Regions from separate parts of the Homo sapiens genome. Here regions 2, 3, 4, 5, 6 and 7 are each linked to region 1. The links come from fine-mapping of genetic effects on gene expression. A gene starts in region 1. Each other region holds a variant in brackets. All regions are shown on one strand. Distances are from middle to middle.

What was found. PIP is the estimated chance that this variant, and not a neighbour inherited with it, causes the effect. A credible set is the group of variants that fine-mapping cannot tell apart.
Region 2: its variant is the best candidate, but not a certain one, in a credible set for the expression of ADCK1 in whole blood (TOPMed, PIP 0.80).
Region 3: its variant is the best candidate, but not a certain one, in a credible set for the expression of ADCK1 in naive CD4 T cells (Schmiedel 2018, PIP 0.89).
Region 4: its variant is the best candidate, but not a certain one, in a credible set for the expression of ADCK1 in macrophages (Nedelec 2016, PIP 0.59).
Region 5: its variant is the best candidate, but not a certain one, in a credible set for the expression of ADCK1 in B cells (Schmiedel 2018, PIP 0.58).
Region 6: its variant is the best candidate, but not a certain one, in a credible set for the expression of ADCK1 in lymphoblastoid cells (GEUVADIS, PIP 0.66).
Region 7: its variant is the best candidate, but not a certain one, in a credible set for the expression of ADCK1 in cerebellum (GTEx, PIP 0.63).

What each region holds. Positions count from the first base shown.
Region 1 is chr14:77,798,037-77,802,431 of GRCh38, forward strand. It overlaps ADCK1 (aarF domain containing kinase 1), which reads left to right and starts at 2,073. Exons shown (of 11, transcript NM_020421.4): 1 at 2,073-2,134. RefSeq lists enhancers at 1,398-1,936, 1,937-2,475, 2,549-2,598, 2,609-2,688, 4,070-4,395 and a silencer at 1,999-2,358.
Region 2 is chr14:77,912,009-77,916,403 of GRCh38, forward strand. The region is part of intron 7 of ADCK1 (aarF domain containing kinase 1); the gene reads left to right. Among named protein-coding and RNA genes, the nearest start is that of ADCK1, 110 kb to the left of the region's middle. RefSeq lists an enhancer at 844-1,359. The variant G/A (reference allele first, on the strand shown) is at 2,039.
Region 3 is chr14:77,867,615-77,872,009 of GRCh38, forward strand. The region is part of intron 4 of ADCK1 (aarF domain containing kinase 1); the gene reads left to right. Among named protein-coding and RNA genes, the nearest start is that of ADCK1, 70 kb to the left of the region's middle. The variant A/G (reference allele first, on the strand shown) is at 1,982.
Region 4 is chr14:77,733,754-77,738,148 of GRCh38, forward strand. It overlaps SNW1 (SNW domain containing 1), which reads right to left. Exons shown (of 14, transcript NM_012245.3): 6 at 3,218-3,322; 7 at 2,184-2,253; 8 at 1,194-1,259. Among named protein-coding and RNA genes, the nearest start is that of SLIRP-OT1, 25 kb to the right of the region's middle. The variant C/CA (reference allele first, on the strand shown) is at 2,795.
Region 5 is chr14:77,889,931-77,894,325 of GRCh38, forward strand. The region is part of intron 5 of ADCK1 (aarF domain containing kinase 1); the gene reads left to right. Among named protein-coding and RNA genes, the nearest start is that of ADCK1, 92 kb to the left of the region's middle. The variant A/G (reference allele first, on the strand shown) is at 2,015.
Region 6 is chr14:77,690,982-77,695,376 of GRCh38, forward strand. ALKBH1 (alkB homolog 1, histone H2A dioxygenase) reads right to left here. Exons shown (of 6, transcript NM_006020.3): 3 at 3,757-3,919. Among named protein-coding and RNA genes, the nearest start is that of ALKBH1, 15 kb to the right of the region's middle. The variant C/CA (reference allele first, on the strand shown) is at 2,225.
Region 7 is chr14:77,902,378-77,906,772 of GRCh38, forward strand. All of the region lies in intron 6 of ADCK1 (aarF domain containing kinase 1), which reads left to right. Among named protein-coding and RNA genes, the nearest start is that of ADCK1, 100 kb to the left of the region's middle. The variant A/C (reference allele first, on the strand shown) is at 2,205.

The DNA.
Region 1 (4,395 bases):
CCAGCCTGGGCAATATAGTGAGACCACACCCCCCAGCTTTTCTTGAGAAAAAATTTAAAAAATTTAGCCAGGCGTGGCAGTATGTGCTTGTAGTCCCAGCTACTCCACAGACTGAGGCAGGAGGGTACCTTGAGGACAGGAAGTTGAGGCTACAGTGATGGAGCCTCTACACTCCAGCTTGGGCAACACAGCCAGACCCTGTCTCAAAAAAAAAAAGAGAAATGTTTTTGATACATGTCTTCAAAGTGCATCTTATAAGTCAACATTTGATAATGGAGATCAGTGAATGAATGAATAAGGGCCAAAGATAACTAAGATTAGCTAGCATATTATATTTATTTATTTATTTATTTTGAGACGAGTCTTGCTCTGTTGCCCAGGCTGGAGTGCAGTGGCCCAATCTCAGCTCACTGCAACCTCCACCTCCTGGGTTCAAGCAATTCTCCCACCTCAGCCTCCCGAGTAGTTGGGATAACAGGTGCCCGCCACTATGCTGGGCTAATTTTTCTTTTTCTTTTTTTTCTTTTTGGAGACAGAGTCTCACTCTGTTGCCTAGGCTGGAGTGCAGTGGCGTGATCTCAGCTCACTGCAACCTCCGCCTCCCGGGTTCAAGCGATTCTCCTGCCTCAGCTTCCTGAGTAGCTGAAATTCCAGACGTGCACCACCACACCAGGCTAATTTTTGTATTTTTAGCAGAGACAGATTTCACTATGTTGGCCAGGCTGGTCTCAAATTCCCGGCCTCAAGTGGTCCGCCCACCTTGGCCTCCCAAGGTGCTGGGATTACAGGAATGAGCCACCGCACCCGGCTTAATTTTTCTATTTTTAGTAGAAATGGGGTTTCACTATGTCGGCCTGGCTGGTCTCCAACCCCTAGCCTCAGGTGATCTGCCCGCCTCAGCCTCCCAAAGTGCTGGGATTACAGGTGTGAGCTACTGCGTCCTGCCCAGCCAGCATTATTATTATTATTTTTGAGACGGAGTTTCGCTGTTGTTGCCTAGGCTGGAGTGCAATGGCGTGACCTCGGCTCACCGCAACTTCTGCCTCCCGGGTTTCTAGTGCCTCAGCCTCCTGAGTAGCTGGGATTACAGGCATGCACCACTAGGCCTGGCTAATTTTTGCTATTATTAGTAGGGACGGGGTTTCTCCATGTTGGTCAGGTTGGTCTCAAACTCCCGACCTCAGGTGATCTGCTAGCCTTGGCCTGCTGGGATTACAGGCGTGAGCCACCGCCCCGCCAGCATACATCAATTGTCAGTAAATTTCTTCTTCGCCTACTAGTTCCAATATCTTATTTAAAATCTATGGCCCGGTGAGGTGGCTCAGGCTTGTAATCCCAGCACTTTGGGAAGTCAAGGCGGGTGGATTGCCTGAGTTCAGGAGTTCAAGACCAGCCTGGGCAAAATGGCGAAACCCCGTCACTCCTAAAAATACAAAAAATTAGCAGGGCGTGGTAGCACACTCCTGTAATCCCAGCTACTCAGGAGGCTGAGGCAGGAGAATCACTTGAACCCGGGAGGCGGAGGTTGCAGTGAGGCGAGATGGGCCACTGCACTCCAGCTTGGGCGACAGAGTGAGACTCTGTCTCAAAATGAATGAATGAATGAATGAATGAATGAATAAAATCTACGAGGTCGGGCGCAGTGGCTCACTCTTGTAATCCCAGCACTTTGGGCGGGCGGATCATTTGAGGTCAGGAGTTTGAGACCGGCTTGGCCAACATGGTGAAACCCCATCTCTAAAAAAAATACAAAAATTAGCTGTACTGCTTGGGCGACAGAGCGAGACTCAGTCTCAAAAAAAAAAAATCTACAAATCCACTTCATCTTTCATTAAACACGAACCTGGGACGTAGTTAGAATGTCTTGAAGAAAATATTTCAGTAATATTCCAAGTCCGTCGCCCTGGCAAAGCAACAAGGCCACCTGACGGAGTAAGCCCGAGACCCCTGTGCCTCCACAGTACTGCCCGCGGGATCGCGGCGTGGGGAACCAGGAACTACAAGTCCCGGCAGGCCGCGCGCGCCTCGGCTTCACTAAGCGCAGTCAGGTGGCTGTCCCCGCACGGTTCCCAGCTAATTCCCCGCTACCGGGTTGCGGCCGGAAGCCGGGCGCCGCGGCTCTGCTTCCCTCGGGGTGAGTAGGGGCAGCTCGCCGGAGGCCGGCGCAGAGCTCGGGCCGACCAGCCTGGCAGGGCCGCACCGCGCCTGGAGCGCGAGGGAACCGGCATGGACACGCCGGGAGTCGGCCTCTGCTCCGGTTGTGCAGCCGCCCTGGGCGCCGGGAGGGACAGCCCCATGACCTTGTCACCTGGGCCCGGCGCGCGGCCACGTGGCTCGGGTGACTCGCATTGCCCCGCCCCCCTGCAGTGACTTCTCCAGTTTGGCACACCAGTGGGCTTTCATGTGACCTGTCCACTTCAGTGGCACAGTCTTGCAGGCACCCGAGTGGGCAGAGCTGGAGGAGGGCCGGAGGTGGCTCACCCAGACGCCTTCACCCCCTGGTGGCCCTGTGAGTTCCGAGGCAGAAGCAGCTGGAGCTGGAGCGTGGTCTGGGCAAGAGCAGGGGGCGATGCCCATATCCTGGCCCTCCACCCGGTCTTGCGAACGTGCCCCAGACCGCTGCTTATCTCCAGCATCTTGCAGGGCCCTGGGCTTCCAGATCACACAGTAGATATGTGCTAACAGCAGCCAGTGTGTGTGGAGAGCAACCTTTAGATAAGACACCTAGAACAGCCCTCTCCCAGGGTTAAGTGGCATTTACTTTCTACTAACAAGAAAGTCATTCAACAAGTATTTATTGTTTACCTCCATGATACTTGGCACTTAGTAGGTGCTCAAGAAATATTTGCAGAGTTGAAGTGAATTAGACTTTATCTGTGGCTTCATATGTTTTATTTAATAATTTTCTTGGGGCTGGATGTGGTGGCTGATGCCTGTAATCCCAGCACTTTGGGAGGCCAAGATGGGAGGATTGCTTGAGGGCAGGAGTTCAACACCAGGCTGGGCAACATAGTGAGACTCCCGTCTGTATTAAAAGAAAAAAAGGAAAATAAATAAAATAATTTTCTTACTACAGTGGTTCTCAAACTTTAGCATGCACCAGAGTCACCTGGAGAGCTAGTAACAACACACAGTACTGGACCCCATCCCCAAAGTTTCTGATTCTGTAAGTCTGGTATGAGGACCAAGAATTGGCGTTTCTAACATGCACCCAAGTGATGCAGTTGCTGTTGGTCTGGGGACCATACGTTGAGTACCACTGCTTTATAGGAAAAAAAATCCTGTGAACTTAAAGCACTATCTCTTCACACCTGGTTACGGGTCTTTCTGTCTTTATTTGCCAGTTTTACTTTTTTGGTGATTGTAAATATGTGCATATTACTTTGTACACTGTTAACTCCCTCCATATTAATTTATATACAGATTTTAATGTAGTCTATACTTGTCATTTTTCCTGGTTACATCATATTCTACCTTATTGGGTCATTCTTTGCTTGGCCATTTCTCAACTGGCCTCAGGGATGTGCGATTTGATCTGTACTAGAAGAGTGTGCATATTCTTACTTTCTGCTATGCAGTCATTTTCTTGTCAGACAAAGGACCTGTAAGAATATTAGTTGGGGCCGGGTGCGGTGGCTCACACCTGTAATCCCAGCACTTTGGGAGGCTGAGGTGGGCGAATCACTTGAGGTCAGGCGTTCAATGCCAGCCTGGCCAACATGGTGAAACCCCATCTCTACCAAAAATACAAAAAAATTACCTGGGCGTAGTGGTGTGTGCCTGTAGTCCCAGCTACTTGGGAGGCTGAGGAGGAGAACAGCTTGAACCCGGGAGACGGAGGCTGCAGTGAGCCGAGATCGTGTCACTGCACTCCAGCCTGGGCGACTGAGCAAGACTCCGTCTAAAAAAAAAAAATTTAGTTGGGTCAGCCATCCATTTCTTCACCAGGGTAACTCACTAAATATGCCTCCTGGGTTAAGGTTTCCATGTTGCAGGGACTCCAGTGGCCTATTTCAGGGCCCAGCAAGCTGCTTGTTCTTGTGCACTTTTTGCTCTCTTGGTGGGAGCAGTCATACATGGATTCAAGTTCTGCCTCCATCACTTACCAGCTCCTTGGCCAAGTTTTCTACCTTTTCTAAAACACCACTTCCTTATCCATAGATTGAAGCTCTAATAGCATGCACCTCGGAATCTGGTTGTGTGAGTTAATGAGCTAATAAGTGCTTGGTACTGTAGCTCTCCCGTTGGAAGCTCACTCTCTTCTCTTACCTGCTGCTTGCTCTTTGCATCTGGCTTTGCCCTATTCTCCCTCAGTCTGCCTTTCCTAGGATGGACTGAATGGAGGATTTCTATTCCTTGCCTGGGTGAGAATTATTTTTGTTGTCTATTCTGGGA
Region 2 (4,395 bases), 110 kb after region 1:
CTAATGCTCTTTTGAGTTCTGCCACCATAGATGACCTGCACCCATTATTGAACTTCACATAAATGGAATCATACAGTTTTGGGATCTGACGTCTTTGTCATCAATGTGGGGCTCTTCTGGAATCTATTTTGTTTCATTGGTCTATCCTTGTAATGCCACACTATGTTAATTTCTTAATCCCCAGTCCCTGGCTTTTAGGCTTTGCATGACTTGGTAGCTCTTTGGCAGTCTGAGATGATGTTATTAAATACTTCCGCAGAAACCCCCACAGTGGGCTATGGGCCACTATGGTGCTCTAAGTACTGTCACTTACCATCAGTAGTGTTGGGAGTAGATTAGGGACAGGCCTTACTCTGAATAAATTAATCTATCATGTCTCTTACCAACTAACATCAAAGCCACGGCCTTGAAGACTACGGAGGAGCGTGTGTGTGTGTGTGTGTGTGTGTGTGTGTGTGTGTGTGTGTGTAATGAAAGAGTCCACAATCCTGAAAGTTTCAGATAGACTCCTGAGGTTCTAAAGTCTCCTTAGGACTGTGGTACTCAGCGAGCCAGCCCTGGAGTGACTCCCTCCTGAGGGCAGCCTGGCTGTGAGCATTCCTTGGGGAGGGAGGTACAAGGGCTAGATAGGAGTGACAGGGGCGAAAGTCTTACTCTGAATCCTAGGGTGTAGTGTGATTAGTGGCATCTTAGCTGCTATAAGCAGATGTCTATCCTGGAAGATGGCTGTAGAAGGGACCCCTCTTGAGGTGGGTGGGGATGGCTCCAGAGCCCCCAACCACTTGTTGTATCAGCCTCACTCCGCTTTGAAGAGGCCTCCTCACCCTACAGCATCCCAGTCCCACTCGGCCCAATAGACTTGGATAGGGAAACAACAGTTTAGCAGGCAAGAGGGATAGGTTCAATCTCTGTCCTGCTGGTAGCTTGCTGTATAACCTTAGGCAAATCACATCCTCTCTCTGGTCCTCAGTATGCTTATTGAAGGTGTGGAACTAGCTAGGCTCTAACCAAGAACATTGATTCTTCAGCTTGGTGGGAGCTAAGACTTGTTCACCAACCATCTCTTTTAGAATCACTATAGGGGAAAAAAAGGAATCACCAGGGGAGCTTATTTAACAATGCAGATTCCTGGGCCCTACTCCAAACTCACTAATCCAAATCCGGGGTGGAAAGGATTGTAGAAGTTTGCAAGAATCTGCATTTCAACAGACTGTCCAGGCGGTTCAGACACTCACTGAAGTTCAGGACTCCCCATACTGAAACATGAAGCCAGGGGCTCAGGCCTTGCCAGAAGTGCCATCTGCGCTCACCCTGCTGATCTGCACCTCCAGGCCCGAGACAGCCCTGCCCAGGGGTGCCCACCTGCCAGCAAGCACGGGCCTCGGGAGCCAGCAGCCTGCAGGGGCCCTCATTTGTTTGTGTCTGTGAGCCCAGAAGCAGATATTACCAAGGGCCTGACCTGGTGATCATATTTGCCAGTCACTTTAAGAGCTGGCGACAATGACTGTCATTGATCTCATTAAAAGTAAAGGTCGTGCAGGAGTCCTCTTTCCCGGGCTGGGTGGCGCCTCCCCAAGCCACAGAACAACTATTGATTGCTGGACCTTTATCGAAGGTTAATTGGATTTCAGTGAGTCTGTGTTTAAGATCCTGCCGAGGCTGAGGTTCAATGTAATTTGTGTGAAATTAGCCAAGAAAGAGGTGACAGAGACAGGAGTGTAGGGGCAGCAGGGACAGATGACTGGAGGTCTGGTGGGCAGACACTGCTGTCCGTGAAGATTGGGGGTAGTCCTGGGATGGGGTTTTAGAAGGGACACCAGCCTGGCTGTCCCAGAGACGTGGGATCCAGGAGGCGAGAGTGCCAGAGCTCCTCAGTGGTCATTATGTGGACTTAGGTTCAGTCCCCTGTCCTTGGGGTGGTGCTGCTGGTGTGTGGTGCAGCCTGCAGAGCCTGTCTGTTCCCAGAGCATCAGTCTCCATCTTCTGTCAGGGTCGGGTGGGGATCTAGGGGTTTAGCTGGTACTTTTAAAGTCTTTCA[G/A]TTAATCTTTCTTTTTCAGAACCCCCAAATCTCATTTTCAGAGGTGCTGGAGTCCCTCAGTTTCTGAGCCTGCTTGAGGCTCAGCAGTAATAATTATAAAGCTCTCCTGTTGCCAGCTTAGGGGTCCATGTTTTCTAGCCTGCTGAGTCACTTCTCAGTAGCTCCCTGCAGCAAACACAATTTTGCTTATCTCACTTTGCCTTCTGTTGTTGCCTCTCTATTCTTTTCTTGTTGTGGTGGGGTCTTTGCCTTCTTTACTACTTTTAGAGTCACTTTAGTGGGGTTCGTGAAGGAGTAGAGTCCGTGGCCTGGGTTCCACCTGCCATGCTTAGCCAGAAGCCCTTGCTATGCTTCTTCTAGTAGTTCTTAATTCCATTCTGTGTCATTGCAGGAGCAGCGAAAAGGTCTCACATTTGCTTTCAGCAAATGATTTCTCGAGCAGCTACCATGTGCAAGCACTGAGTGCACTTGCTACAATAGAGGTGTGAGCAGAGTGTGGGAGAGGGTGGGGCTGGGTGAGGCTTTATAGAGGTTGGGTCCTGGGTGGGAAGAGCAGAGGGTTTCAAAGTTAGGGCCCCTGAGATTGTGTATTGGCTGGTGCCCTTGGGTAAGCAACATCCTCTGAGTGTGAGTTTTCTCATCTATGCAGTTGGAGAGATAACATCACTTACTGCATAGGGTCATTGTGTGAATTTTGCAAACTGTGAAGTTTTGTAAAAACAATGTTACTGTTACTTATAATTCATGCGTTCATGGTTCACAGAGGCATGTCTTCCTCCATAGAATCTTCGAGAATCCTCTTTGCTCCCCTTCCTGCCCACTTACCTCTATTTTCTGAGTATAAAGACTTGGAGTTGGGTAATAGTCATCTATTAAGCATATGGTACCCCCTTACCCCCACTGTAAAAGCCATGCTGAAGTTTCTACCTTTCCCCTTGTCACCACCTCCAGTTGAATAGGACATTTGCATTTTGGCTCAGTGTCATTTTTCCCCTGCTGGGCCTGTCTGGCTGTCTGGTAGAAGATGCCCAGACCAACATAGAGCAGCTGCGGAGGCATGAAGACCTTCTACCAAAATCACCAGAAGAAAACATCTTCTTCCATTGTCCATCCCTTCATTGCTTCTTGGACCAAATCTTTTTTTTTTTTTTAATACTTTAAGTTTTAGGGTACATGTGCACAACGTGCAGGTTAGTTACATATGTATACATGTGCCATGTTGGTGTGCTGCACCCATTGACTCGTTATTTAACATTAGGTATATCTCCTAATGCTATCCCTCCCCCCTCCCCCCTACCCCCAGCCTACAACAGGCCCCAGAGTGTGATGTTCCCCTTCCTGTGTTCATGTGTTCTCATTGTTCAATTCCCAACTATGAGTGATAAATTATGCTGCTATAAAGACACATGCACACGTATGTTTATTGTGGCACTATTCACAATAGCAAAGACTTGGAACCAAGCCAAATGTCCAACAATGATAGACTGGATTAAGAAAATGTGGCACATATACACCATGGAATACTATGCAGCCATAAAAAATGATGAGTTCACGTCCTTTGTAGGGACATGGATGAAACTGGAAACCAACATTCTCAGCAAACTATCACAAGGACAAAAGGACCAAATCTTTAAAAGAGCTCAGGGATGTTAGAGGGGTCCAGGTGTATGAGATGAGTTCCTGGAAATTTATTTCCTCCACAGCAAAGGTGTCAGGAGTGAGTAACTGTGTTGTTGTGGAGTTGGCCTTCCTGGATTCAGGTGTTGGCTCTGCTGCTTATAAGCTGTGCCACCTTGGTGAAGCTACTCACCCTTTTGAAGCCCCAGTTACCTTTTGTAAAGTGGGATACAAGAGAGTAACCCACTGGATCGTTTGATGACTGAAACAGAACGCTTGGTACGGTGCCAGGCCCAGCATATGTCCTCATCACATGTTGAATTATGCTGAATTCCACCCCTTGGAATTTTGTGGTGTCATGTGGTGCTCGTAGTACATTATGTGCCAAAAGATGGGGGGAAACATGTAGGGAAGAAACCCTTTCCCCATTTTTCATATTGACCCAGGTAAGGTGGAAAGATAGGAAAGTATTTCTTTGGACTGAGTTGTTGTCCAAGGCCAGAGATGCCAGATGTCTCTGCTTTTCCTCCCTTTCTCTGTGTCTTCCCATAGCCAAGGTCCCTAGGACCCCTCCCACCTGCTCTGGTATCTGGGTAACTTTAATGAATGTCTCTGGCCAGAGACTTGAGGAGGCTCTCTGGCCAGAGAGACTCATTAAATACCCCATGCCATGCCTCTCTGTGATGTTCCTTTTCAATCCTAACCTAGAGAAGCTTTCACTAGGTACCTAGAAGCTCCAA
Region 3 (4,395 bases), 70 kb after region 1:
TAGTCACTGCGGGAGAGGCAAGGCAATGGTCGAGGTGGCCCTGGCTTGTGCTTCCTGCTGATGCCCCATCTGGCCCGACCTTCTCCCTGTGACCACTGCCCTCCTGCAGGCCTGTACCCTGTCTGTGCCCTGCTCCCGGCCTGTGTCCTGCACCTTGAATCCTGGTGTCACCATGTTCTATGTCATCCTGGGTAAGTTTTGTGATTTTGCTGAGCCTTGGTTTCCTCATGTTTAAACAGGGATGATAAGAGAGCCTTCACATGAATAGGGCTGTGGTGAGGAATGAATGCTATAGCCCAGCCAAAGTGCACTGCCTGGTGAATGGTAAATGCCAGTTCACTGTCAGCTGTGCTTGTTACGTGTCGAGTTGTTGCGAGAGCAAAATTTGGCAGTTAAGACCAGCACCCTCATCTTGTATCCAGCACCTTGCCTGGTGCCTCGATCTTCCTGAGGTTTAACAAATACTGACTCTGTTTGTTCACCTTCTGTTGTTCAGTGGCAAGTGCTTTGGACAAAAGTTATCTGGGAGAATCACTCATGGGTTGTGAGGGCTTATAAATCATTTAGTGCGACCCCCACATTTCACAGGTGAGGAAACTGAGGCTCAGAGAGGGGCAGTCACTTGCTTAATGACACAACTGGTTGGTGGTAGAAACAGGACTAGAACCCAGGTCTCCTGATTCCTGATCCAGTGCTCTTTCTCCTGGACTATTCTGTTTCAGATGGAAGCTCAGTGCCCGGAAGAGAGGGCAGCACTCAATCGAGCAATCGGGCTGGGCTTGCTGTCAGAGCCACCCAGTGGGCCTCCGTAGCTTGCATTGTCCTTGGGACCTTGTAGTTTCCTGCGGACTTTGAGGAAGCCATATTTTCCTAAGTCCAGGATCCTATGGTTCTTTTTGTCCTTCTTCCAGTCTTTTGTCTTGCCAGTGGTTTGGGGTGATTATACTAATGTGCTCACCAGTTCACTCTCAGTCCACAGGCTGCACGTGGGGTGCCTCCCCTTTGTTGGGATCTAGTGCTCAGGGTCGTGCCCAAGCCCTCTGATCGGCTGGTGTGTCTGGATTGTTCCATACCCACTTCCTGCAGATAAAAGGCCTCAACCCATGGTGGCCCCATTCACTAACCCCGGGAAGGTTGGGACCCACCACTTGTTGGTTTGCTTACCTAGAGAATACAGATTTGTAGAGCAACTGCTATTCTCTTACCCATGTGCCACTGCAGCGGGGGATATACAGAATGTTAAAGCTGTGCCCCTCCCTCCAAAGCCAAGCAGGCAGAACCGTGCACAGAGGGAGTAATTAGAGAACAATTAAGCCCTCAGCTGTGGGGCTGATGGTTGGGAAGTTCAGGGGAAGTTCAGAGGCGGGTTCCTGGTGGTGGGGGTTTGGGCTTTGAACTGGTCCTTGAAGGGTGGGTAAGATTTGAGGAGGGGAATTCTGAGGGCACACAGGGTTGGCAGTTGGTGGTGAGTAATGACCACAGGTAATTCAATGCCCAGAGAGCCGACAAGCTGGCCTGGAGTGGCAGGGAGCTTTGGTTGGATGGCGTATTGGTTTTCTCGGGCTAGCCGCAAACCTCTGGCTTAAACAACAAATGTATTGTCTCACAGTTCTGGAGGCCAGAGGTCTGAGATCAAGGTATCAGCAGGGTGGGTTCCTTCTGAGGCCGCGAGGGAGGATCTGTTCTAGGCCTCGGCCCTAGCTTCTGGGGGGTTTGCTGGCAATCCCTGCTGTTCCTTGGTTTGGAGATGCATCTCCCCAATCTCTGCCTTCATCTTCACATGGTATCCTCTTTATGTGGGTGTCTGGCTCTGTGTCCAAATTTCCCCTTTTTATAAGGACACAGTCATGTTGGATTATGATTGTGCTATTCCAGTATGACCTCATCTTAACTAATTATTAATATATCTGCAATGACCTCATTTCCAAATAAGGTCACATTCTAGGCTGGGGTTAGGACTTCCACATATGAATATTTATGG[A/G]GCACAGTTCAACCCACAACAGATGGGTGCATTAGGTCTTCTGTGGTTGTAAGGATCTTAACTCCAACTTGAACTAGCTAAGGCAAAAAAGGAGATGTGTTACATTGTAGTTAGGGTTGGGCTAGAGTTGGGCCTTGGGGTGTCTTCTGGGACTCTTGTATCTCTCCCAGCAACTTCTGTCTGTGGGTCAGCCTCATTCACAGCTGCTTCCCTCCATGACCAGCTGCCATTGACAGCTTTTAGCCTCACCTCTTCTCAGCTTCACACCTAAGAGGGCCTGACCCTGCTCCCCAATTTCAGGACTCTGATTGACTTAGCCTAAGTCAGATGTTGTACCGGGTTAAATAGTGTCCACTCCACCCAGCCCCACTTTTCTTTATAAATTACCCAGCCTCAGGTATTTATAAAAACGTGAGAATGGACCAACACAGATGGGTAAAGGCAGACAAGATGGTAGGTATTAGTGTTGGTGGATAATAACATATGGTTGTGTTTATTTGGTACTTGTTATGTAGTGTGCATTGGCTGGATGTGTTACAGATATTGTTTGTAACCTTTACAATAACTCTGTAAGGCTGGTAGATTACCATTCTGGTTTTCCATCTGAGGAGGCAGAGGCCCTGAGAAGGTAACAGCTATGTTCATGTAGCCAGTAAGAAGCAGAACCAGGATTTGAGCTCTGATGACATCTCCACTCTTCCCGCTATGCAGCTCCTAGCCCTGCAGAAGGGCTGGTTTCTGGGGGACGTTAAAGAGAGCCATAGGCATTGGGTCTTGCTGTGGCAAGTTTTAGGGTATCTTCTTAGGCCCCAGGTCTTAGAAGTAAAGTCAAATCAGCTAATAGCCTGTGTGTTCTTGTGTGTGCCCAAGACTGATAAAGAGACATTTTAGGCAAAGTGAGCTAATGGTGTAGGACGGATGGAGGGAGCCAAAGGAGGGGCCCTGCGAGGAGGCTCTTTCCATCATCCATATCTTGCAAAGGTGAGCTCTCCCTATGGAACCTTTTTAGCTGTCTCCCTAAGCTGGGGCAGGTGCCATTTTTTTCTCCCCTCAACATCCCCCTGGAGCTCAGAGCGTGAGTGTCCCAGGTTGGGCAGTGAGTCAGGAGGCCATAGCCTGGAGGACAAATGCCATGGTTATGGCTCTTGAAGGACTTGCCCTGGCAGTTGGCCCCATGCCTTCTAGGACTGCCACAGGGGTCACAGAGTCCTCATTTCCTCCCTGACTGGAACTCGTGGCCTTCCCTCTCTTCTCCAGGGAGAAGGGGAACAGGTCTCCCCTGCAGGCCACTCAGGGCTGGGGCTGTCAGTATGGGCAGGGTGGATGTGATTGCAGTGGCTTCTGATGCCTCTCCCTGTCTCCTCGTGACCCAGAGGTCTGTTCTTCCTCGTGGCAGTCCTGGGAGAGGGGATGGCTTTTTGGAGGAGCCTCAGGCCTGCCCAGATGTACAATGAACATACTGGCCAACATGGCCAAATGAGTGAGGAATACATGCTTGTCTTAGTTTGGGCTTTCCTAAAAACAAACAATAATTTGAGTAAAAGTGATGTTGTGGGATGCTCAGATGTTGCCAGTAGGGAAGTGGGGATGTGGTTCAGGAAGGGGGAGGCAGCTGGTAACTCTCTGCTCTTAAACCAGTGGCTACTGTGGGCAAAATCAGGTTAGTCCTGTGGGCAGACTGGGAAATGGTGTCAAATACGTACCTTTCACCCATCCCACCCAAGGGCCAAGGTAGGATATTCATTCATACACCAACTTCCTAACTTCTTCTTTTTTTTTTGAGACAGAGTCTCACTCAGTTGCCCAGGCTGGAGTGTAGTGGCATGATCTCTGCTCATGGCAACCTTTGCCTCCCGGGTTCAAGCGATTGTCCCGCCTCAGCCTCCCAAGTAGCTGGGATTACAGTCATGCGCCACCAAGCCAGGCTAATTTTTGTATTTTTAGTAGAGACAGGGTTTCTCCATGTTGGCCAGGCTGGTCTCAACCTCCTGGCCTCAGGTGATCTGCCCATCTTGACCTCCCAAAGTGCCCGGCCCTAACTTCTTTAACTGACAGCTGCTCCTGGGAGCTGATACTTCCTGAGACTTGGAAGTCCCAGGGAGTCTCTGGCACAGATGCAAATCCTGGGGGTCATGCAGGAGCTGAAGGGGAGGTCTGAGGGGAGCAGGTGGAGCACTGTCAGGGCTAGGCCAGCATCATCTCAAAGAAGCCTCACAACTGCTCTGTGAGAGTAAGTACTGTTTTTATTATTCCTATTTCACAGAGGTGCAAACTGAGGCCAGAGATGTTAGGTCTCATGCCTAAGTCACTCAGAGAGCGTGAGCAGAGTCAGGTCTGGCTTCAGAACCCAGGCTTTCTAACCCCAGCATTCCATGGCTCTTTGCAAAGGGTCCTGCGCTTTTCACAAAGTTTTC
Region 4 (4,395 bases), 64 kb before region 1:
AAAAAAAAAAAAAAACCAAAGAAAAAAGAAAAAAAAATGTTTGCTAAACAACTGAATTTCTACATTCTAAAACTTTGCATCCCATTTCAATAACTCAAGAACTGTACTTGAATGTCTATGTAACTTTCAGGCTTAGCTTTATTTTCCAGATATCTGACTAGTCTCTCAAATGTTGACTTTTAGTCCATGGTCTCATAATAAAATGAAGCATTATAGAACCAGCTCAAGATACCATCCAGTTACAAAATACCAATCAACTCAAATCAGACCAGTCGGCAACCTCTTTGTTTAGGGTGAGTATATAAATTCTCTTAAGAAACCTGAAATGGTCTTCTTTATCCATCAAAAATAAAATCATGAACTATGATTCAGGGAAGATGAAACAGTAACTAGCAAATCTATCCCACAATCTACAGATTCTTAACAACTCCTAGAAACTTTGGCAATTATTAGAGATATATAGCTTAAGCCTTCACTACTACAGAGCCCAGTAGTTGAATATTAAAGCACTTAAAGTATCCAAGCATTTACTCTGTTCTTTTGTCATATAATCTTTTACATCAGTTTACTTTCTTTTAGAAATAATTTTTAGATATAAATTTGAGTTTTCTAAATACCATCTTGTATTTATATGACACTTTATTCTACTTATTCCTTCTCTATGTGCTTCTGCTAGCTACAATTCACTAAAAGAACTGATATGGGGCCGGGTGCGGTGGCTCACACCTGCAATCTAAGCCCTTTGGGTGGCCGAGGCCGGCGGATCACAAGGTCGGGAGATCAAGACCAACCTGGCCAACAGGGTGAAACCCCGTTTCTACTAAAATACGAAAAATTAGCCGGACGTGGTGGCATGCGCCTGTAGTCCCAGCTACTCAGGAGGCTGAGGCAGGGCAATCGCTTCAACCTGGGAGGTGGAGGCTGCAGTGAGCTGAGATCATGCCACCGTACTCCAGCCTAGTGACAGAGCGAGACTCCGTCTCAAAAAAAAAAAAGGAACTGACACGGTATTCACGTGCCTGGCATACTAACATTTCTATTACATTAAAAAAGTCACCAAATTGGGCATTCCTTTTTGAAAATGCTCAGTTAAACCACGTGTTGTTTCAACTACAGTTATGCAGGCTGTAGTTGTTTTACTGGTGTTTTCCAGTAGGTTATACTAATAGAGACTGATTTGACAACTTAATTACCTTTGCATTTTTCCAGTTAGAAATACAAGGAGGAATCTTCCACTCTTGTTGTTCCTTTACAGTCATCTGAGAGAAGAGGGAAAGAAGAGACAAGTTTAGATTTATAGTCTACAAAGTAAATCTAAGTATAATCTTTATCTTCAAAGACAGCTCCATATACACTGACATATGCACAGCCGTAGTAAAAGGCCAGCAGTCCATTTGTTTGCTAGCACTAGTTTACCATATAATTCTAGTAATAACTTTGAACTAGTGTGAAAAATGGAAAATAATCTAGAAATTATTCTTGACAGTTATAAATGTTGGCTAGTATTTTTCCATATTTAAAGTGATGTGACTTTTTTCTTTTTTTTATTGAGACGGGGTTTCGCTTTTGTTGCCCAGGATGGAGTGCAATGGTGCAATCTTGGCTCACCACAACCTCCGCCTCCTGGGTTCAAGTGATTCTCCTGCCTCAGCCTCCCAAGTAGCTGGGATTATAGGCATGCGCCACCATGCCCAGCTAATTTTTTTTAAAGTAAAGACGGGGTTTCTCCATGTTGGTCAGGCCGGTCTTGAACTCCCGACTTCAGGTGATCTGCCCGCCTCGGCCTCCCAAAGTGCTGGGATTACAGGCGTGAGCCACCACGCCCGGCCGATGTGACTTCTTTTGGATGAAAAATTGTTCTTTTGATTAACAAAACATATCTTAAAAAGTCAAATTACCAGGGACCTAATGAACCCATATATTCACTTCCTATAACATCCTTAAACTGAAACAGCAGACCCTGTCCATTCCATTAAAAGTAGGGTTTGCATTACTAATAACAAAACTTACAGCTAACATGTTATATACATTCTCATAAGCATTCTTGAAACTTCATCTTGAAAAATAAAAAAAGAAACTACAAGTCAGTGTGGTGACATGCACCTGTATAGGCATAGGGAGGTTATCTATAAAATTAATAACCATGAGTAGAAAAAAATATTTTGGACTACAGCAAAGAATACCTTTCGGCTAGGAGAATGCATGACAGGCGCAGGAGGAGAAGGTGGTCCCCGGGGAATTTTCTTATTAATCCTGAAGTATAAAAACACAACCAGAGAGTGATATAGTTTCCTCCCTTTTAGTCATCATATCAAGTCTCTCCTCCTTTTTCTTGCATAAAAGTTTCAAACATAGACAAAAACAGAGACTGTATAATGATATACATTTACCACTCCACTTTGACAATGAATAAAACATGGCCAACTTTGAAACTGTTACTCACCCCACCTCCACAACATTATTGTCATTTTGCAGAGTAATATACTTTTTTCCACTTTAAAAAGCAGCTTTAGGTCGGGTGCAGTGGCTCATGCCTGTAATCCCAGCACTTTGGGAGGCCAAGGTGGGCAGATCGCCTGACGTCAGGAGATCGAGACCATCCTGGCTAACATGGTGAAACCCTGTCTCTACTAAAAATACAAAAACTTAGCTGGGCATTGTGGTACACGCCTGTAAACCCAGCTACTCAGGAGGCTGAGACAAGAGAATCGCTTGAACCCAGGAGGCAGAGGTTGCAGTGAGCTGAGATCATGCCACTGCACTCCAGCCTGGGTGACAGAGCGAGACTGTCTCT[C/CA]AAAAAACAAAAACAAAAACAAAAACAAAAACAAAAAAAGGCAGCTTTATTGAGATAATTGACATTTATTAGCTATACATATTTAAAGCATACGATTTGATTAAATTTTGACACAAATATGCACCTGTGAAATCATCATCACAAGCAAGATAGTGAACATGTCTATCATCCCCAAAAGTTTCTGCTTGCCCCTTGCCTATTCCTCTTGTCCCTCCCATCTCCTCTCTGTCCCTACCTCCTTCCCCAGAGGCAACCACCTATCTACTTTCTGTAACTATAGGTTAGTTTGCATTTCCTGGAGTTTTAGATAAATGGAATCATACTGTATGTACTTGTTTTTGCCTGGCTTCTTTCACTCAGCATATTGTTTTGAGATTCATCCATGTTATTGTGTGTATTAGTAGCCTATTCCTTTTCACTTACTTGAACCTTGGAGGCTCCATTGGATCTTTCTGCATTTCTACCATCCGAATAACCCTCTGTTTAGCTCCAGAGTTGAATGCCACTCCTTGCTGAGATGGTGTGTATCTGAAGAAAGCAGATAAAAACTAAAGGTGTAATTAGTTCAAGCTTTCAGTAGGTATTTTCCTTCTATTACAATCTTAAGCTAGACTACATTTTCAATTCCTTTCGCAAAGTATTAACAGAAAATTAACAAAATATTTAGACAAAGCAGACAGCAAGAGGGATAAAAGAACATAAATTATGAGTTACAGTCAAAATATAAACTTGAGTGGTATTAGTTTGCAAATAACCCATCCTCATATGTTTTCCAACATGGAAGGTGCCGTGTTCAGTTTCACAGATAAGCAGTCTAGAAAATAGTACCTATTTAGTATGCCTGCATCTGAGGAAAAAACACTCATAATAATCCCAGCAGGCAACTTACGGTTAGCAGTTTTTGATTAATCATAGGTTATAAAACAGAGAAAAGAATAATGACAGCAGCCCTACCAGCTCTGAATTTTTCCTCAATATCTGTATGTGATTCAATTCTCTATGCAGATTTAGTCAAGTAAAACGCCTCAAAATTTAGAAGTATTATAAAGATATCTATTACTTATAAATGGAAAACTATAAATAATAATTGTGATTTAGGTCATATACCACAAGTAACTGTTAATTTCTAAAAACAAAAAATATAATTTGAAAATAGCATAGGGCCAGGCCGGGTGGCTCATGCCTGTAATCCCAGCACATTGGGAGGCCGAGGTGGGCAGATCATCTGAGGTCAGGAGTTTGAGACCAGCCTTGGCCAACGTGGTGAAACCCTGTCTCTACTAAAAATACAAAAATTAGCTGAGCATGGTGGTGCAAGCCTGTAATCCCAGCTACTCAGGAGGTTGAGGCAGGAGAATCGCTTGAACCCAGGAGGCAGAGGTTGCAGTGAGCCAAGATTGTGCCACTGCATTCCAGCCTGGGTGACAGAGTGAGACTCCATCTCAAAAAAAAAAAAAAAAAAAGAAAATAGCATAGGCTGGGCACAGTGGCTCACGCCTATAATCCCAGCACTTTGGGACCTGAGGAGGATGGATCATTTGAGTTCAGGAGTTCGAGACCAGCCTGGCCAACATGGTGAAACCCTGTCTCTACTAAAAAAA
Region 5 (4,395 bases), 92 kb after region 1:
AAAAAAACTGTGCAAAACATTGGGGGGTGAGCCCAAGAGGATAAGTTCATGAATGGGACTAAGAAAGCATGGTCAGAGAGATTGGAGGAAAACCAGGATTGAGCAATGCTGCTATATTCAGTGGAGAAAAGTTAAAGATGAAAGCACTATATTAGTTATCTAATGCTGCATAATGAGTCACCTCAAAACACAGTGAGCTTAAAACAACAGTCATGTGTTTTGCTCATGAATTCGCAGTTTGGCCGGGGCTTGGTAGAGAAACTCATCTGTTTTATGCAGCTCTAGCTGGAGTAGCTTGACTGGGGGCTGGAGTGGCTCATTTCCTGGCTGGCAAGTTGGTGCTAGCTGTTGTCTGGGAGCTTAACTGGGGCTGTGGGCCAGGGCCTTAGTTCCTCTCCATATCAGCCTCTACATGGCTGCTTGGTCTTCCTCACAGCATGGCGGCTGGGTTCTAAGAGCAAGTGGCCCAAGAGAATAAGGCTGAAAGTACATCACAGTTTTATGACTCAGCCTTGGAAACTACATAGGATTACTTCTTTCTTACTCTTTTGGATGAAGCAGTCACAAAGGCCCCCTTAGTTAAGTTCAGGGTTGGGGAAATAGACTCTACCTCTTAATGGGAGAGTGGCAAGGTTCTAGAAGTGAATTAGAATGGGAGGTACTGTTGCAGCCGTTTTGGAAAACATAGTCTGCCAGAATTCCTCAACGTTGTCATATGGGAGATCAAATCAGTAAAGCACTGGAAAGGGTATTTTGGATCTGGCGATTTAGGGTGGTTAGAAAGAGCAGCTACAGTGGCCTGATCGGGGTGAAAAAGAATTGAGACTCAAGAAAGTGGAGACTCTTCATGGAGAATGTACTGTTTTCAGATATTTAGCTGTGGAAGGTTTGGGAGAGTTAGGGTAGTGGTCAGAGCAGAGCATAGGATTAAATACTGAGGAGACTTCAGTGGAATCGTAGCTGATGGGGAAGGGGGCAGGTTGGGGATTCAGCAGAGAGAAGTAATTGCTAGATCAAGTCCTAAGGGAGATTCAAGCGACTGGGAATGAAGAACACAGGTGGAAACCTTAGCCTTTGTTTCGAGCCCAGTGGAAGGTGGGAAGGCTGGGTACAGATGAGTGTGTGGGGCAGAGGAGAGGGGGAGGGAAAGTGGGCAGCAGAGTGTGTAGCAGCCTGATAGCCTCTATTTTTTCTCTGAAGTGGGAGGCAAGACCATCTGCTGAGAATGAGGGGGTAGAAGGTAGCATTGGAGACTCGAGGTGGGTGAAGGTTTGGAACAGCTACTGTGTGCAGTGGAAGGGAGCTGACCAGGGCAGGAGAGCAGGATTGCTGGGTGGCCCTGAGCATCCGCCTACAAACCTGATTTTTCTAGCACACCTGTCAGCAGCTGTGGAGCAGCCATAGCTGGGAGAGACCTGGGAGACTTGGAGGATCCCAGGGTTTCCTGAATCCCAGAAGCCACTCCTGAGTCAGGCAGGAAGCTGCCTCTGCGTAGTAAAGCCATCAGGGCCCACTTGGACAGTGAGGACAGCTGTCGCTTTTTCTTTGCGTTTTCTTGCTGGCTCCCTAAGTAATGGTTGCTGTAAGGTCAGAGCAATAATAGCAGTAATAAAGATTTGGCATCTTCCTCCCTGAGATAAGCATCACATGCTTTTCTTGGGAAGCACAGCCTGGCAGGCTGTGTGCAGAGTACAGAGTGGCTCCTTAGTAGTGGCTGAGGCAGTTCTGGGGCTGGGACCACAAGGCAAACCTGAGACCCGCACTCATACCCTTCAGGAGAACAGCTGGAATGGAGGCCTGAGGCCACCACCCCATGGATCATCAGGATTAGCAGCAGCACTGGGTAACACTGCCATCTCACTGGGCTTCGTCTCTGGTGGGAAAAGTCCTGCCTGGGTCTTTCTCTGGTACAAAACCAAGAAGGGCCCAACTGGAAAGCTCGTACTTGAAGTGAATATTTTGTTTTTCTGTGTTGAGACCTAAATGGTGTCTTATATTTAGGAATGACAATCCA[A/G]GAAAGGTATTAAGCATTTTTGGCTTGAAGAGTGATTTCTAGGGGACATTTAGGGCTACCAGAAACTTAGGGACAGAGAGGAGGAAAAGCTACTTTTCTGCATAGCCTCTACGTCTCCTTTCATGCCAACTCCAGGTGTGGTGTGCCCTTATGCTTCTCTCCCACTGTTGTACACTCTCCTCTGCCCCATAATTGATCACAGCCTGGTCTTAAGAGGAAAGCAATCTGATGAAAGCAGTTCACAGTAAAGAGAGTGACTGATAGGCTTAACCTCTTTATATTTGCATCTTAAGAGGTGACCTTCTACACCCAAACTCATAACTACTGTGCATTTACAGGGTGATAGAGGTCTACAGGGGTGAGACTTTTGAGAGCAAGGGGGTGGTGACTACTGGTTGTGTCAGGTGGGATGCTTTCAGTTGGCTCTAAGAATCAGAAAATCCAACTGAAAGTGGTATAGCTAATACTAACCCTTATTATCTCACATGTGAAGATGTCTGGAACTTGGGTCAGCTGTTCCAAGGCTGACAGCCCAGCACCTCATTGTTTGTAATGACTCAGACTCTTTCCATGTTTCACTCTGCTATCTCAGCTTCCTGGCTCGCCCTCCTGAGCGAGCACCGCACGTAGTCCCAACACAGCTGCAACAGTTCCTGGTGTTACAAGTAGGGGACATCCTCATATTCTTTATCAGAAAAAAAAAAAAAAAGAGATCCCTAGCAGAGTTCCCTTCATTTGTTATTGTCCAGAAGTAATGCCCACTCCCAAATCAGTCTTGGCAAGAAAACTGAGACCACCTTGATTGGCTTAAACCAATCATGACTCACCTTCTCAGACCTGCTATCCTTGAAGGACATGAAGGATGTACAAACTTGGGGTTGTGTTAGCCAGGATGATGGGGGAGATGGCTGTTGGTTTGGCCTCCAATAGCATGTACTACCCTAGAGTTTTGTGTCTACTCTGAACCTGGCAGTTTTGTGTCTCCTGTGAACCTTCTCCCTTGGAGAGGGGAGAGAGCCTCTAGGATAGACTGTTGAAGGATGGCAGGGAAGGGAGGCTGATTCTCAGTAAATGGTGTTCAGTGAATCTGATGGTGTCGATGACTTTGCACAAAAGAAAAAGGCAGAGCCAGGGATGTTTTTTCAGCTTTGTCATTATCACCTGATATTGTCCCTTTAATAGTTGGGGCAACTCTACTTCTAGATGCACGGCCAGTGACTCTTATTGATTTGAATGGCTGTCCAGAGCCAGACTAATTGGGCCCAGAGATTGGAACAATGATTCAGCAGGAGGGGGTGAACTGATGAAGCATAGTCCATCCGTCTGCTGGCGGGCTGGCTTTGCAGCAGTTCTTTTCTACCCACAATATTGGGGAGCTTAGCGGGCCATATCTCACTGCCATTCTCACTGCTTGAGGGCAGGGTAGGACTCAGATGATCCCTGAGCTGGGGGACTACCATAATCTCCAGGTCCTAATCACCCTGTATCACTCCCAGTTATTTCTCCAGCTTCTGAATTGATGAGGAACACTCCCTTGCCCTCTCACCCTAAGGAATCTAACTCATTGCCAAGTACTATGCCCTTCATGCACTACTGGGCCCCAAGGTGCTCGGCTATGTTGGGGTGGGACTCTTTGGCCTGAGCACTAAATCTGATCTATTGCTTGATGTCATCTGGCCCATCCCAAGGGTCTCAAAAAGTGAAAACCCATGGCAGTCATGTTTTTGACCTTTTCTGAGCAGCATTTTCAGTGCATTCTGTCTACCATCTTGTTTCTTCCCTTCCTTCCTTCCTTTTTTTTTTTTTTTTGACAGAGTCTCACTCTGTTGCCCAAGCTGGAGTGCAGTGGTGCGACCTTGGCTCACTGCAACCTCCACTGCCTGGGTTCGAGTGATTCTCCTACCTCAGCCTCCCAAGTAGCTGGGATTACAGGTATCTGCCACCACGCCTGGCTAATTTTTGTATTTTTAGTAGAGACGGGGTTTTGCCTTGTTGGCCAGGCTGGTCTTAAACCCTGACCTCAGGTGATCTGTCTGCCTCGGCCTCCCAAAGTGCTGGGATTACAGGCGTGAGCCACCGCGTCCAGCCTCATCTTGTTTCTTTACTAAATGTGTTGTTTGAACAGTGGGTGGCTAGGCAATGTTTATGTCGGCACAGAATCCAACAGCGATTTTATTTTTTAAAATATATATTAAAAAATATCCAGAGATGTGGGCCACCCAAGGAAACTTCTCTTCACCCTATAAATCTGTTTTCTAAAAAGCGTGTACTTTAATAACTTATCAGAACAAAGATAAACCCCGTGAATGGCAAGCTATGTACATCACTCTGAACTGATTTTCGATCCTTGTTGAACGTTCATTTTTACCAGTTTGGATCGG
Region 6 (4,395 bases), 110 kb before region 1:
GTAGAGACGGGGTTTCACCATGTTGGTCAGGCTGGTCTCGAACTCCTGACCTCAGATGATCTGTCCAACTCGGCCTCCCAAAGTGCTGGGATTACAGGCATGAGCCACCGTGCCCGGCCTGCACATAACTCTTGTACACTTTTACAACAATCTCTAGCTACGCCATTCACTTTGGAAAAAAAAGAACAGAATTGAGGTACTCTAATTTTTTGAACAGTCCTTAAGTTCAAGTATTTTTTTTTAAATAATTTTTGTTTTTGCTTAAGTTCAAGTATTTCTTCTTCATTTCCTATTTAAAGTTTTTTCTTCCCTGACTATAGAATTCTAGAAAATTAAAACCAAAAGGATCTTAGAGGTCCTTTACTTCAGTGGTTCTCAATGTCAGAGGATGTTATGATACCTAATCAAAATCTCCAGGGGAACTGTTTTGAACTCAACAGACTCTCTCCTGTTCTGAGAGACTCTGGCAAAGTTGGGAGAGCTGCCAGGTACTGTCCACATGACCCTGACTGCCCATGATTCAATTACCTTGAATGGCTTATCCAGTCCAATACCTTCATTTCTTACATGAGGAAACTGAAGCACGTATCACATAGTGATACAATGAAAACTTGGCCTTAATCGATTTTCAGTGCTGCCAGTACAATGTCTTGAGCATATCAATTTCTTCCAACCCTTGACAACATAAGGTACGACCATCAAATTTTTTATTTCTGCTAATTTATTAGACCAAAAAAAAGGTATCTCACCATTGTTTACAGGATGATTTATTACAGAGATTCATCTGAGCTATCTTAAAAGACAGCTGGGATTTCTGCAGAGTCATATATCAGAAGGAAAAAAAATTACTTGAAAACACAGGCTGGTTTAATAGCAGTAGGTTCTCTTGGACTAATTTTACTTAACCACGATCTTCCTTTCCCCTGCTCTCAGTTGCGAAGAAGACACTACTAAAAGCTCATGGACAGGATTTTCCTCACTGCTCCTGTTGATACCATAACCTATAGACCAAGGTTTAAAAAAAACCACTGAATTTTACTTTTCCTTTCCCCTTAAGAAAATCTTCTCTTTACTCTGTTAGAATCGGCATGACAGTTTCTGAAAACTACAAAATTAAGGCCACGTAACACCAAACGGGACACAAAGTTGGTAAAATGGTTTTAACAGGCACTTTAAAGGACTTCTCACGTATTATCTTGTTTAATCCTCATACTATTCAATAAGGAAAGAACTGTTATGAGACACAGAAAGGTGAAGGAACTTGCTCAAGGTTACACAGCTATTAAGTGGTGGAGCTGGGATCTGAACACAGTCAGTCTGACTCCAGAACTAGTGCTCTACATTAGTGGTTCCCAACCTTTTTGGCACTGGGGACCAGTTTCATGGAAGAGAATTTGTCCATGGATGGAGTGGGGATGGGGGGTGGTTTGGGGATGAAAACTGTTCCATCTCAGATGAACAGGCATTAGATTCTCAATAAGGAGTGCGCAACCTAGATCCCTTGCATGTACAGTTCACAACAGGGTTCGCGCTCCTATGAGAATCTAATGCTGCTGCTGATCTGACAGGGGGCGAAGCTCAGGTGGTAATGCTTGGCTGTCTAGGTCTGCTGCCCCATGATTGGGGACCCCCCTGCTCTACATCACTAAAACCTTTACCATCTGGCCCAAATCCACCTCTCCTCCTTCATGTTTTACCAATTCCACCTACTCATGGCTTCCAGGAAGCATTTTCTATAATCTACCTCCAGCCTAGCTACTTAAGTGACCATTCCCATTATATCTTATAATGTCTGTCCCTGCACCTACCAAATTGTATTTATTTATTTATTTATTTATTTAATTTATTTATTTTTAGAGACAGTCTCTCCTCAGCCTGCCGAGTAGCTAGGACTACAGGCACACACCACTATGCCCAGCTAATTAAAAAAAAAAATTTTTTTGGGGCCGGGAAGTGCCTTACACCTGTAATCCCAGCACTTTGGGAGGCCGAGGTGGGCAGATCACCTGAGGTCGGGAGTTCAAGACCAGCCTGAACAACATGGAGAAACCCCTACCTCTACTAAAAATACAAAATTAGCCGGGTGTGGTGGCGCTTGCCTGTAATCCCAGCTACTCTGGAGGCTGAGGCAGGAGAATTGCTTGAACCCGGGAGGTGGAGGTTGCAGTGGGCCAAGATCATGCCATTGCACTCCAGCCTGGGCAACAAGAGCGAAACTCCGTCT[C/CA]AAAAAAAAAAAAAAAAAATTTTTTTTCATAGAGATGGGGTCTTGCTATGTTGCCCAGGCTGGTAACTCCAGGCCTCAAGTGTTCTTCTCACCTTGGCCTCCCAAAGTGTTGAGATTACAGGCATGAGCCACCAAGCCCAGACCCAAATTGTATCTAATTATCTGTTTGTAGGTTTTTGAACATAACTAAAGTACAAATTTCTTGAAGACAGGAACTGTTTTTTATCTGCCTTTGAATCTCTAACACTAAAGCACAGTGTCTGACACATAGCAGAAACTCAATAGATAACAACTGAATAAACGTAAGAAAGTACACATCCTATGCTCTTGTCTCGCAGGACGATTTATTCTGTCTTAAATATTGTATCTTTGCTCAGGCTGCTTTCTCTACTCAGTAGAGACTTTTTACTTTTCTGACTGGTAAACCCCTACTCATTTTTGAAGATTAGTTCAAATGGACAGTGAAAGGAGGATAACCCAATAAAAAAATCATTTTTTCAGGCCGGGCTTGGTGGCTCACGCCTGTAGTCTCAGCACTTTGGGAATCTGAGGCAGGGGGATCACTTGAGGTCAGGAATTGAGACCAGCCTGGCCAACATGGCGAAACCCCATCTCTACTAAAAATACAAAAATTGGTGGGGCGTGGTGGTGGATGCCTGTAATCCCAGCTACTCAGGAGACTGAGGCAGGAGAATCGTTTTAATCCAGGAGGCAGAGGTTGCAGTGAGCTGAGATCGCGCCACTGCACTCCAGCCTGGGTGACAGAGTGAGACTCTGTCTCAAAAAACAAAAAACAAACAAACAAAAAATCATTTTTTCTTCGTTCACACTTCTACCCTGCCTGGAATAATTATTTCCTCCTCTATGCTCCCACAGTATTTTTCTAAACCGCATCATAACACTTTCTGAGCTCTACAGTAATTATTCTCATAGGTAATGCATTCTTGCCAGAGACTATGCACTACTGAGTGCAGGGAGGGTGCCTTTATCTTTCTGTGTCCAACGCCTAGCATCATGCCTGACACACTACTGACCCTCATTAAGTATTTGTGGAATGAATGAATGAATGTTGAAGCATGAAGGTGAAAATATTAGTTATTCTCATCAGGAACAACTGACCTATCATAAAACGGCTAGTACCACTGAATCCATCTAGGAGGGTAGAAGCAAAGAGCTTTCGATGTTACCTTTCCTAGGATACCAAAAGCCTTCAAAGGAACTCACTTTAAGTAGAAAAAAATGGCTGAAGCTAATGGAAATGGATCATGTGATGATTAATGAGGATGAACTCAATTATCTAAGCTATGATAAGCAAGTCTTTAAAATGGATCTCAATTTACTATAACTGTCAAAGCATCTGTCCAAATGTTCCTGGGGAAAGAATACAATTGTGCTGTTTTTGCTTGGAAACAATGAAGGGAAAAAAAAACCCAGCCAGTCACTTTTACTGCATTGTTATAGAACAGTTCCTTCAAAGACCTGTGATGATCTGAGCTGAGTATTAACACTTCATTCTGATTGACAAGACTTACCTCAGGAACTCTTTGCTCTGTTCCCACAGATCTTGGGTCTCTTCTTTAGACATGTGTTTGTCCAGGTTACATACATTAGGTTTCTGGGAATATAACTTAAGGCACTGTTTCACCCAGTGCCACTGGTAACCTGGGAGGAAGGGGTTTGGGATAAAAATAAACCCTATACAAAAGATGGGTGGGAAAAAAAGAAGAGGGGGAAATTCTCCATCAGTTATTCAAATAATTTTGACATCTTTATACTCACTATTTTGTTATTTACTCCCCATATTTTTTTGGTCATGCTTCAAGTTAATGAACAGGTAGGTTTTGATGAACATTAGACATCTACCCCTATGCAAATGTGTCTGGCTTTCTGGGTATTCTCAAGAGAAATAAATATTCCACAACAACTGTTATCCCAAAGCAAACTTTAGAATTGGAAGTGGTAAAAGTACACCTCTAATTTTTATCAGGTCTTGACACTTAGAGTCATCCGAGACTTCTTTACCTCCCTATTTCATTTATTACAGGCATGATTACACGAAATCTTATAATGAATTTTAGCTAAAACATAGATTTGAAAGTCATCGTCTAATGAATGGCGTGCTCATTATTGGTCTATTTTCTCTCAGTTTCAAATCCACTCTTCTATACTTA
Region 7 (4,395 bases), 100 kb after region 1:
CCTCTTGTGTGTGTAAATCCAGGAGTGCAGCCTAGATCTGGTGTCACTGCCCCAGCCTTGGAGCTCAAACCACCAGTTCAGTGAAAACTTGGCTCTTTGAGACAAGTGATAATGTTAACTAATTAGCATAATGCTATAGAGTCTAATACATGCTTCTACTTGCTTATTCCATTTCTTTTATTCCCAAGCTTGTTGCTGTGCTGGGAGCTGAGGTTTGTCCCTGCTCTGGAAAACTTCTCATCTAGTGGAGGGACAGACACAGCAATGTGTTGTTGCAGTGCAGGTTTGTTAGCACCATGACAGGCATTCATCTGTGTTTCTGTGGATTCCCAAGAGGAAGTACGTAATTCTACCCAGGATAAAGGGCTCTGGTGAGTGCTTCTAAGAAGTATTGACTATAGGCAATATATATTGATTATTTCTTCTTCATCAGGAGCTGCTGCATTGAACAGTCTGCAGGTACTATGGTGTTGAGTCCTTCCAGCAGGCATCAGCCCATATTGCAGAGGACAGTTTGAGTAGAGGAGCTAGGGCAACATCCCAGATTTTCTGACTTCAAGTGTGGTGCTCCTCTCAGGATACTCTGCTGCCATTTACCGGCAGGGGTGCCCCTCAGAGCCAGAACTATGAGCCAGACAGAACCATCTCCTCTACTGTTCCCATGGAAACAGCAAAATTGTCCCCTGGCTGGGGCCAACTGGCAAGTGCCAGACCAAGACATGCAATAATAACAATAACACACATTTTTCAAATGAAGATGCCAAATGGGTAAATAATGAATATACCAATTTGACCTGCTGTTTCCAAAACTTGCACACCCTTCCTAAGACAGTGGTGGAATTAAGGCTCTTGAGTAATTAATTTTGCCTAAACACATAACAAGGGGGAAGTGAATTTTGCACTGTGAACCCAGTTCAGCTCTTAAAACTGGAGATAGACTGCTTTTGCACACTGGCTCCCGATCACAACATCTGTGCATAATTAAGCCTCCGCAAAGACTTTACCTCTCAGTGTGTGAGGCATCTTCCGGTGCTTATGTGCGGTTTAAGAACCTCAGCCCTGTGCTATAAATCTCCCAGGCTCAGACAAGCACTGAATGCAAATATGGCGTCAGGGGGACTGGGAGAGGGTGAGGGGGCAGCTAGGCTGAATGATTAAGGCCAGGCTTAGTGGATCTGGCAGCAGAGCGTATGTGCCAGGGGATGGAAACAGGACAAGTGGTAGGGTTTGTGACTCACCTGGGGACAAGGTGGCAGGGGAGAAGCTTTATAACCACAGGGTTTGGGACTGGAAGTGATGAGACCATTTCTGTATGTGTGGAGGTGGGGATAGGTGTGCAGGGCCATGCCAGGGTTCCTTAGTGTGAGGTAAGGAGCCCAGGACTCTAGAAATTGTGGACAAACCCTGAGGAGATGTGCATGCTTTTTGGGAAGTATGATAACTTCCCATGAATCTCAAAGATTAGGAACTACAGATGGATAGTAATTAATATATAACTTCTTTTTTGCAGAGTGATTTATATTCTTTAATTCTTTAATTCTTACAACAGCCTCACAAGGGAGGTGCCATAATCACCCCCATATCATCAGTTGGGAGACTGAGGCTCAGAGCTATCAACCCTTTGGGCAGGGTCACAAGGCTTACCACTAAGGGGAGGGAATAGAGGTAGCCTGCTCCAGAGCCTGCATGTTCACCCTCCATATGGTTTTGCTCTGTGGGGAAGTTGTGAATTCCAGTGAACCGTCTAGAGCATAACTCTCAGCCCTGGTGTGTATCAGAGCCCTCTGTGAAACTCGATGTGGCTGTCCTAAGAGCAATCGATGTTTTTTCCAGCAGCTGCTAGTGTCTGGTTCCATGTTGAGTGCCAGTACTCTGCTCATAGTAGTGGGAAATGGGGGCGGAGGTGGGGTTGTGCTTCCACTGTAACCATTATCACCATATTTTTGGTGGAGAAACTGGTGTTCAGAGAGGTTATATAACTTACCCACAGTCACACAGCTTTTAGGTGGCAGAGCCGGGGCTCCAGCCAGCAGCCTGACTCCAAATCTGCCGGTCTGACTGCATGTCTCCAGGCCTTCTGCTGTGCTGGACTCAGGCTCCAGGAGGACTGTGGGCCTAGGGTGATGGGCACTGTCTCAGACAAGCCAGGCGCAGCCTGTTTCGTGGGCATGTTGACCAAAGCATAGAAACAAAGCAGAAATGTG[A/C]GGTCAGGGCCAGACTGTGAGGCTGAGGCCCAGGGTCTTGGGCTAAAACTTCTCTAATTGGTGCCCTCCTTCTTGGGGTCCAGATTGGCATCCGTGTGGGAGGCAGGAGGAGCCCACAGGAGGGAGGCCTCTGCTCTGTGGCAAAGAGGTAGAACCTGGACCCAGGGGTCCTAATGGTCAGGGTGTGACCCTGCTGGTGGGGCCGCTGAGCACCCTGGCCATGAGCTCCTTAGAGTTTCAGCTTGCTTTGTTTGGGGGTGGGATGGGGGAGTGCGGGGTGCTTATTGACTCTTTCAAATTTCTCTTTTTCATTTTTTCCTTCTTTGATGGAAGAAGCATAGGACAGGAAATGTGGGCGCTCACTTCACCCCACACCCCCAGGTCCTCCTGCCCATCTGGTGATTTAGGCGCAGCTCACTTTTTTAACTGAGCAGGAGCAGTTTGGCATTTTGCAGTCATTTCCATGTTATGTCTGTCCAGGGGCACCTGTGGTTCTGAAGCTCCCATGACAAATTCCACTGTTTCCCAGGTTTGATATTTTAGTCATTTCAGATTTAAGCAGCAGAAGCAAGGGGCACATTCTGTGGTTAGACTGGAATGGTGATGTTTGCAGGGAGACCAAAAAGGGGGAAACCGCAGTACACCCAGGACCCTGATGCACAAGCACAGAGAAGCTCCAGCCTGTGGGATTTCTGTTTCCACCTGTGACTCTTTCCTAGCTGGTTTTTTTTTTTTTTTTTTTTGAGATGGAATCTCACTCCCTCTGTCACCGTGGCTGGAGTACAGTGGCGTATTCTTCACCCACTGCAACCTCCGTCTCCCAGGTTCTAGCGATTCTCTTTCCTCAGCCTCAGTGATCTGCCCTCCTTGGCCTCTCAAAGTGCTGGGATTACAGGCGTGAGCCACTGCGCCCAGCCCCTCGCTGTTTTTTAAGCTGCCTCTGGTGGGGCTGGCTAGAGATTTGACCTCTTGTCTCCAGAGCCTTAGGGGCCCACTGTCAAAGGTAGGTTTACAAACAAACCCAAGGGAAGAATTTAACCCGAAAATATGTCCCATTCATTTGGAAGCCATGAACAAAAACAACAGGCAGGGCACGGTGGCTCACGCCTGTAATCCCAGCACTTTGAGAGGCTGAGGCAGGAGGATCTCTTGAGTCCAGGAGTTCGAGGCTGCAGTGCGCTATGATGATGCCACAGCATTCCAGCCTGGGTGACAGAATGAGACCCTGTCTCTAAAGAAACCGACAAAGCAACAATAGCAAACATGCACTCACTTTTTTAAAAAGAAACTTTTTGAAAAATGCCAAGCAAGTCTAAATTTTAAGTTCAAAGTATCAGTTTCACAGATTTCTCTATTGGCCCAGATTTTCAAATGGCAGAAACCGCAGTCAAGCAGCAAACCAAAATAACACCTTGCTTTCTGGTGGAAACTTTGTTCCAACTAGAGCATTTCACTTGTATGTACAGCCCCCATTTATCCTCAGAGGTCCTTACTGAGATAGGGCAGAAACAATTCTGCTTTCCAGTGAGGAAGACTGGGATGTAAAGAAGTTAAGTGGCTAGTCTAAGACACAACAGTATTAGCAGAATTAGGAACAGGAAATAGGTCTGTTGACTTGAGGGCCACTATGTTATTGCTAGATGAATTTGGGTGGTCAGGGTAAAGGAAAATCTTACTCTCCAAAACATTTGAAAAAGCTGCCCATGTTTCTTTATTTGTAAGAGGAAATAAACTCCTCACAATTTGGGGGAAACTCGGCATGCTGGAAGCCCAGTAACCCCTCCCTCCTGGCTGTGGGGGTACTGGTGGGTGTCCCTTGCTCACATGGCAGCCTGGTTGCATTCTAGTCTCTTGCCCGCTCCTGGAGAAATCTGTTCTCTTTTTGGTTTTTGAGTGTTATGAGAGTCAGAGAGGGTTGGAGAGTGTATGTTAGTAATGCATTTGTCTGTAGGCAACTGAAAGCCTCATTTAGAGTGCCTTAAACAAAAGAATTTGTTGTCTTCACATAGCAAGAAGGTTTGCAGTGGTTGCCTACTGACATATGGTTTTGGTGGTTTAACAGTACCAGAGCTGGCTTCTCAGATTTTTAAATTTTTTTATTTTTCCTCATTGTTGCAAGATGGCTGCTACAGCACCAACAGTCACATTCACATTCACTTTCGAGGCAAGAAGAGAAGTGGAAGAAGAGTAG